2 linked regions of the Homo sapiens genome follow. The protein of the gene in region 2 purifies or fractionates together with the protein of the main gene of each other region. This does not show direct contact. Each region holds a gene or a part of one and is shown on either strand. Other genes may lie near its edges. The genes, in order: SAFB and STAC.

Region 1 (3,817 bases), on a different chromosome or scaffold from region 2:
CAGCCTGGCCAACATGGTGAAACCCCATGTCTACTAAAAATACAAAAAATCAGCTGGGTGTGGTGGCGGGCGCTTATAATCCCAGCTACTCAGGAGGCTGAGGCAGGAGAATCTCTAGAACCCGGGAGTCAGAGGTTGCAGTGAGCTGAGATCGCGCCACTGCACTCCAGCCTGGGCAACAGAACAAGACTCTGTCTCAAAAAAAGTTAGCGATCGCTTAATTACAGGAGGAAGTGCAGTGTGCAACGGCCATGTAGCAGAACAGTCAACCTTGGTGTCAACAATGCACTGTTTCTCTTTCCACGTATAGCTCTGTATCTATCCCATGTTTTTACTCCTTTAGAACACTGATTAAGAAGGAATTTGGTAGGGTAAAATTATTTCTCAGTTAATGCATTTAATGAAGGGTTACAGGATGAATGTGCTCCCAACACAAGGATCTGCACCAAATCAGCCTGTTAACTCTTAGGACCTGGTATGCTTCCTACAACCCAGAACCTGTAGCGGTAACAGCAGAGAAGGAGAAAGACTGCACAAACGTCTCAGGAGTCTCCTGGGTAAGGAGCATAGCACGCGATGAACCAGAATCAAATACCCGCCACTGCCCAGGCCATACATGCTCCAAGGGACTGGTGTCGCCGAGGTGACCTACCCTTTTCCTCTTTGGAAAGCCTTTTTGTATCCGAGTCATCTTCGGGAGAACTAGAGACAAAAGACAATGTCACTCCACAAGGAAGCAGCATGGAGGAAACAAACTCAAAACCATAAAATTCGTGCTGAGGTTGCATACCTACCCGAAATTTAGTTCTGAAAAAATGATACCCCGACAAACTTGTATTGAAAATCTGACCTAACCATAAGATTTCAGACCCACAGGAGTTAATTAATTCTGCTGGGCTAAAGGTAATTAGGAAGAATTTAAGAACACAACCATGGTAGGTTGAGAAAAAGAAAAGGAATTGAATCACCCATTAAAAACACACAAAGAGAAACGAAACATTCTTTAGAAGCAAAACTACAATTTCGTCAGTCTGGCTGGCCAATTGCAGAAAAAAACAGCTTATGTGTGTCATTACATGACCAATGAAAAGGAGATAGCGTCTGGTCTAAAACTGAGAAAAAACAAACCTCATTTTCTGATCAGCGCCCTCACTGGTTGAGGACTCTTTAGGAGCCGGAGGGACTTCATTACAAGCGTCAAAATCAAACTTCCTCCCGTCTTCTTTGCTATCTCTGGCTTCTGGGCTTGGGGCTTCCGTGGGTGCTTCTGCGAGCTCCTCGCTAGAGGCCTCCGCGAGCTCGGAGGCCGCACTACTCTGCTCAACTGCCGGCTCTAGCCCTACAGGCTCACAGTCCGTCCTCTCGCCATCGCCTGGCTGCTCCGCGGGCTCCCTTTTCACTACCGCTAACAGGCTGTCTGCCTTGCTCGACTGAGCGTGTGCTGTTGACTCGCTGGCCAAATCTAAATCACCCTCTTCCGGATGGGCGCTGTCAAATAGGTCCTCTTCCTCCGCAAGCTTTCTGTCTGGCCCCACGCTACTTGTGTCCTGTGCAAATGGCTGCTCCAGCTCGGAACTTTCTTCTTTTACTGGCTCAGATTTACAAGTTTCCCCCAAAATGTCGAGTATTTTCTCATTTTCTACGGATTTAACAGGAATAGAATGGCACAAGGTTTAATTACCAGGGAAATAAAGCAATCACAAATGTGGAACTGGCACGGCTGCCACACTAACACGAAGAGAACTGCTAGCTACACAGAGATTGGAAAACCCGCGGGTACACAAAGTTATACTGGTTACACTACCTGCGCCGCGACCGCCTCTAGGTAAGCCTCTACGCTACACGGAAGAGAAAAGCATCCCAGAGATTTAACCCCCAAAACCTTCTGGCTGATTCTTGACAGTCTTCATTCTGTCGTCGTTTAGATATGACTCTTCCAAATTTAGCTTCCAAAGTCCAAGTTGCTTAACTGAATGTATCACCATTCACTGAACAGCTCAATTTCCAAATTTCTTTGAATTTCTTTTAACAGAACAGTCCAACATGAAAACCAGAATCTCTTCCATCCGTGCTCTGAGATATTTGCAGTCCAGAAAGTGAACAGTGTTTGGAATTCTCATGAAGACACTCTTTCCTCTTCTGGAATCCAGTTATGTCTCAAATTTATGTTTTAAAATGTATCTCCCTACCACTACCTGAGCTGCCTCAATTAAAAACAACAAAATTAAGCTACTGCCCAATATCACAAGATCTGTTTTGTGGGTGCAGAGGTATTAGCTCTCAAGAGAGGCATCTGGAACTCTTTCTCTATGTATGATTCAATGCTGTTGATATTCAAAAAGGCATGAGATACTTTCATCTCACCAATACATTTTGTAAAATGAGAAGTGAGCCACTTTCACAGATCTGGTGATATGGCTGGGTTTCCAATCTCTATGATCCTGGTAGGTTTTGGATTGTAAACCTTTAGAACAATGTATACTATAGTAAGGTAACTTTTAAAAATCAAAGAATTCAAATTAGAGAAGGTGGAAAACTAGAATGGTTCCAAACCCCCGCTGGTAAGTTTTTCATTTAACAGTACCTGGCTCCAGGGATGGCTCTTCAATTTCCTGCAAGAAAAAACGTAAATAAGACTGTGCCAGATGAATGACACCTACAGTTTATTTAAATGAAAACCCAGAATAACTAAAGAGGGAATTTTAAAAATCCAGGGAGGGAAACTCACAAACTCAAGAGGTGGAGAACCTGCTTGTTCTAGGAATGGCTCCATAAGACTGGCATCCACTTCACTCAGCCCACCCTCCATTCAGTCTCCCCTGCAGGAGCCTGGAACTGGTCTCACTTCATGGTGAGGCACTCATCATAAGCACGCCTGACCCTCTAGATTGAACTCTCAAATTCAAGGAGAGCAGTGTTTTCATTTTTCTACTGTTAGCATCTAGAGGAATGCATGGCACATTAACAGTCACTTTTTCACTCAATGAAGCTACGACAACTTTCTGATATTCGAAAGACTGAGGGAATATGGGCCCAGGTGGTATGACTCCTGCTCTTACTTGGCATGGTGGTGCCAGCATGAAAAACTTTGTAAATACCCTCCCTCCTTCATCTCCTCTTCCAATCAGTGTTCCCACCAGGCCAGTTCTAGAAGTCATTCAGACTCTTCCCAGGAAGCCCTGTCCACTCAGGCTGGTGCCATCCTTGCCTACTGTGGCATCTGGTTGTATTATCCCCATCCCATCTCTCTGCACCTTGTGTCCACAGTAAGCTCATGTCCCTCTGTGGCCTTCAGCCTTCAGCCAATGGATCCCTATGCCACCTCCCTCCCTGACAGGCCCAGCCCTCCCCTGCCCCGTCCAGCCAAGTCATCCACATCCCTCAGTATCCAGCTCAGTGGCATCTCCTTTCAGGAAGGCTTTCCCTATTTCCCTCTAACCCAACTCCAGCTGTGCCCCACTAAGCAAAGGAGCTTTTTCCACATGATGTGATCCCCCAGCCTTTATGTTTCCTGTGCACACAAGGTACACTCCTCTGGAATTCCAGTCAACTGATGGGCACTGACTAGGTTCCAGGCACAAATGTAAGCACCTTACATACACACAGACTCGTCATCGGTTGCAGGAGGTTGGTCCTAATGGTAGCACCCTTCTTTTTACAGAGTAACAGACTGTGACCAGACAGACTGAGTAACTTGCCCAAGGACACACAGCAGGTGGGAAGCAGAGACAGGCTCTGAGCAAAGGCCGTGTATGAGTGTGAGTCTGCACTGTTAACCATCAGGCCAGGCCCCACGAGCATGGGGACCACCCTTCCT
Region 2 (3,817 bases):
ATAGGACCTAATCACTCGTGGAATATGAGTTTAGTCTGAATCTGCTGATTTGCAATATCTGTAGGACTGGTTTGGTGCTTGGGCAAGAGGAAATACCTAAGGGAGTCATCAATGTAGAGACGGTGCTTGAACTAAAGGAATGTGACAGAGATCAACCAAAGAGAGTAGAATAAGAAGACCAAGCAAAAGCAGACCCCTGGGAACACTCCAACTTAAGGAGTTACAGGAGGACACATCAGAGAAGGAGATGGGCTGAGCAGAACAGCGAAGTTACCCTCGAGTAAGTCAGGGGTTTCTAACACTGCCCAAGCATGAGTGGCTCTGGGAAATGCCCTTCTCAGGTAACATATTTGCCTTGTTAATGGATTACTTCCTTGTTTAACTTCACAATAATTCAGGTTCAAAGAAAACACTGTTAAGGCTAGATGCGTAATGAAAATGAAACAGCTGGGTGCAGTGGCATGCACCTGTAATCCCAGCTACTCAGTACACTCAGACAGGAGGATCATTTGACTCCAGGAGTTTGAGGCCAGCCTGGGCAATAGAGCAAGACCCCATCTCTCAAAAAATATTTTTAAATGAATTAAAATATAGAACAGTAACAATTTCCATTCATTGAGTGTCAATTATGTCAGGCCCTGTGCTAAACACTTTATGTATATTATTGTTACCCAACCTAAGCAGCCTTTATTTACATATAAATCCTACCCATGTATGCTTTGTATATTTTCATCACATTTAGCACCATTTTTATCCTTCTTTCAGTAAAAGAATTAGCATTATCTTGTGGATGCCAAATAACAATGATCTCCTCCCTAAGGAGGTCATCAGGTATCTTAAAATGACACACATTATCCCCTCACTGCTTTGAGGCAATGTCTACCGAAGTGAAACATTTTTCATCTTTACTATGAAATGCTTCAGTACTCATATGACACAGTCATTATAATATCCTTAACACGTGTATGTTACGTTCTCAATCTTAATAAAATGGGATAAGACATATAAAAGTGTATTTTTTTAAAAATGGTAAACAATGCCACCATTGTCAAATTTCTTCGCTATTGGTTTGGTCTTCAGAAATAAGTTGTGAATTCTAAGGGTAAAAGCTATGACTTCCTCTTCTTTTGTGTCCCCTACAGTGCTAGTAAACTGTAGGCCCTTCATTCATGTCTGCTAACTGAGTAGAAGAAAGAACTATCTGATGTCAATTTTATGTACAGTAAGGAAAAAGAGTAAAAATTATTTTTAGTTCTTTCCTCTTAGAAATCAGTGGATGCATGAAGAACAGGGCTTTCAGTGAGTTTAAAGATGGCTTTGAGGATAGCCACATGGCATCAGGCAGAGGACCTATAATCCTACCTACTTGCCTACCCGACCTATTCACCTACCTACAATCTTGTGGCTTAAACTGCACCCAATAGAGGACCTATAAACCCACCTACTTGCCTACCCGACCTACATTCCTATTCACCTACCTACAATCTTGTGGCTTAACCTGCACCCAATGAGGAAGCTGCTTCAACTCAGTCTCTGAGAACCCCTCCCAGGCATGTGCCCTGCCCCTCTTCCCACAATCCACCTAGTCACTTGATGTTGAGAGGACTCAGTGGGGCAGACCATTTGAAGGCTCATCTGTGTCTTGCCTAGAAGCTTCCAGTCCAGCAGGGGCTGCAACAATGGAAATGGAAACTAGGAGCTGGCTATCCTAAGTGGCCATGTGAACTGGAAGGTCCTTGCCTCTTTGCTGGAGGAATGGTGGCTTTCAGCATGGGCTGCAGAGTTGTATGGCATCTTGGAGCATTTATAGAAATTCTGATTGAAACAACCAGAGACAAGATGATGATAACAGGTCACAGAGATGCATGGAACACTCAGTTTAAGTCAGATAGAACTTAGGAGAGGTGCTTGGAAGAGTGAGTGTCCCACAGAGTCACAGTTCAAGTAACTTTGAGAGTGCAGTTTTTGTGTGCAATCAAGAGGTGTGCCCTCTCTTAGAGAGAAAAGACAAAAGATGTGAGAAATAGCTGTGTCTTTGAACTGGAATGTAGCTAAACGGAAAACTGGAAATAGCCAGGATTTCCAAGTTCCTGACCATTGTTTGAGCCAAACATTTCTGTATGTTGACTCATATGTTATCTAATGTTGGTGGGAGGGTAAAGGAGAGGGGGTCCATGGGAAGGGTCAAGGAGCATGAGGCCAAGGGGATGGTCTTTGGACAGGAAAGTAAAATAATCCCTTGGTGTTGACAACAGGAAGTTAATCCTTAGTGGCTCAAAGCACTTTGGGTTTCTCTTTGGCAGGTGCCTGACTCCCTGCAGACCTGCCCTCATGAGGCAGTCAGGTGGAATACCCCATACTGCAGTGCCTGAGGCCCGCTCTGCCCAAGACCACCACAGACAAACCGAGGAAGGAAGAGGATAATTACAGAGGTTCTGTGAGGTGAGTCAGAGCCACTGCCGGAGCTGCCCTTCTTTGTCCTCTGGGCCAGGGAGGTGCCGAAGCGGAGGGTCTCGTAGACAGGGTCCACCTTATTGCCACAGGCTGCAACAGAAGAGAAAGTTCATCTGAGGAAGCTCATCTGAGAGGACCCAGCCAACTGCCTACCACATCTCCTGGGTGAACAGCGCCTGAGAAGCAGGCTCTGTGCAGAGGAACTTAGCCTCTGGGTAGACAGGGCTTTCATGGCCAAGTGTTCCTCACAGATGCACCCCCACCCAGCATGCTCCCATTTGCAGGTCCTGCCATGTACCAGCTAGTACTCTGCTCCCGAATTCTTCCTGATTGAATTTCCTCTTTCGTTATTCCTCTCTGATTTCCAGGTTCTTGCAGGGATCAGCTTTATCTCCTCTACTGGGAGGCTGTGCTCACCAAGGTACAAAGACTTGAGACACAAAGTTTGCAGTAGGAGGCAACTGTTTTAGAAATAACTTGTCACTACTGGGCTTCATTAATTTCTAATTAAAAGCTTTCTAACTTATAAATTTCTAGTTTAAAACTTGCCCCCCCTAAAAAAAGCAAAAATAGATGTCGAGATTTTCAGAGAGAGAAAAAAAATAATAGAAGTAAACTGAAAGATATTGTTAGAGAAGAATCCAAGCCAAAGCTATCAATAAATAGAGGGCATCTTTTGATCTGCATTAGAGAATAATATATTCACTGAGCTCCTACTAAGCATGGGTGAATAACCTATATTTATTTTTTATAGCAATTATGAAAAGCAGCAATTGCTGTTCTCATTTTGTGGGGGTTGACAGGTCAAGTAACTTGTTCAAAGACACACAGTTGTCAATAGGGAGCTGGGCTTAGAGCCTGGTCTGGGGGAAGCCATTCTCCGTGTTCTTTCCACTCCACCATGCTGCTGATGGTGGAATTACTAATCAGTAGCCTTTGGGATTTAGGTGTTTTCTGAGCTTCATCAGGGAGAGGATGAAAATTCCTGGAGAATTTGGTCCACTTTATGTTTCCCTTCCAGCAAAACACACAGTCATACCCCAAATAGCCACCAAACAAACACACAGAGATACCCCACGGGTTTTGCAGCCATGGGAGGACAGTAGCCATTAATGTTAACTTTGCTGCTTCAAACTCAACTCAACCCATCAATGTCCCAACTCACCAATGGGCATAACTTCTTTAATGCAGCCAAACTGTTCATGAATGAGCAAGGGGGAGCTGTAGTAACGCCGAAACCCCTTTGGCTGGAGAGAGAATGAGGAAGGCAAGGGGTTAATGTCACTGGAGATGGAGAAAACCATACAAGAGCTCCCTAAATAAAACCAATTGGTTTCTCCAGGAGCACCCTCCTGTCTCCCAT

What was found.
Region 1: the proteins of STAC (region 2) and SAFB purify together in Homo sapiens (affinity purification with mass spectrometry; one large-scale study listed by BioGRID and IntAct). This does not show direct contact.

Annotation. Positions count from the first base shown.
Region 1 is NC_000019.10:5,646,811-5,650,627, reverse strand, and holds part of SAFB (scaffold attachment factor B1), read right to left. Parts: intron 2,613-3,817; coding exon 2,585-2,612; intron 1,640-2,584; coding exon 1,129-1,639; intron 703-1,128; coding exon 653-702; intron 1-652. UniProt on the Homo sapiens protein: Binds to scaffold/matrix attachment region (S/MAR) DNA and forms a molecular assembly point to allow the formation of a 'transcriptosomal' complex (consisting of SR proteins and RNA polymerase II) coupling transcription and RNA processing.
Region 2 is NC_000003.12:36,484,861-36,488,677, reverse strand, and holds part of STAC (SH3 and cysteine-rich domain-containing protein), read right to left. Parts: intron 3,702-3,817; coding exon 3,620-3,701; intron 2,916-3,619; exon of another isoform or gene 2,753-2,915; intron 2,545-2,752; coding exon 2,429-2,544; intron 1-2,428. UniProt on the Homo sapiens protein: Promotes expression of the ion channel CACNA1H at the cell membrane, and thereby contributes to the regulation of channel activity.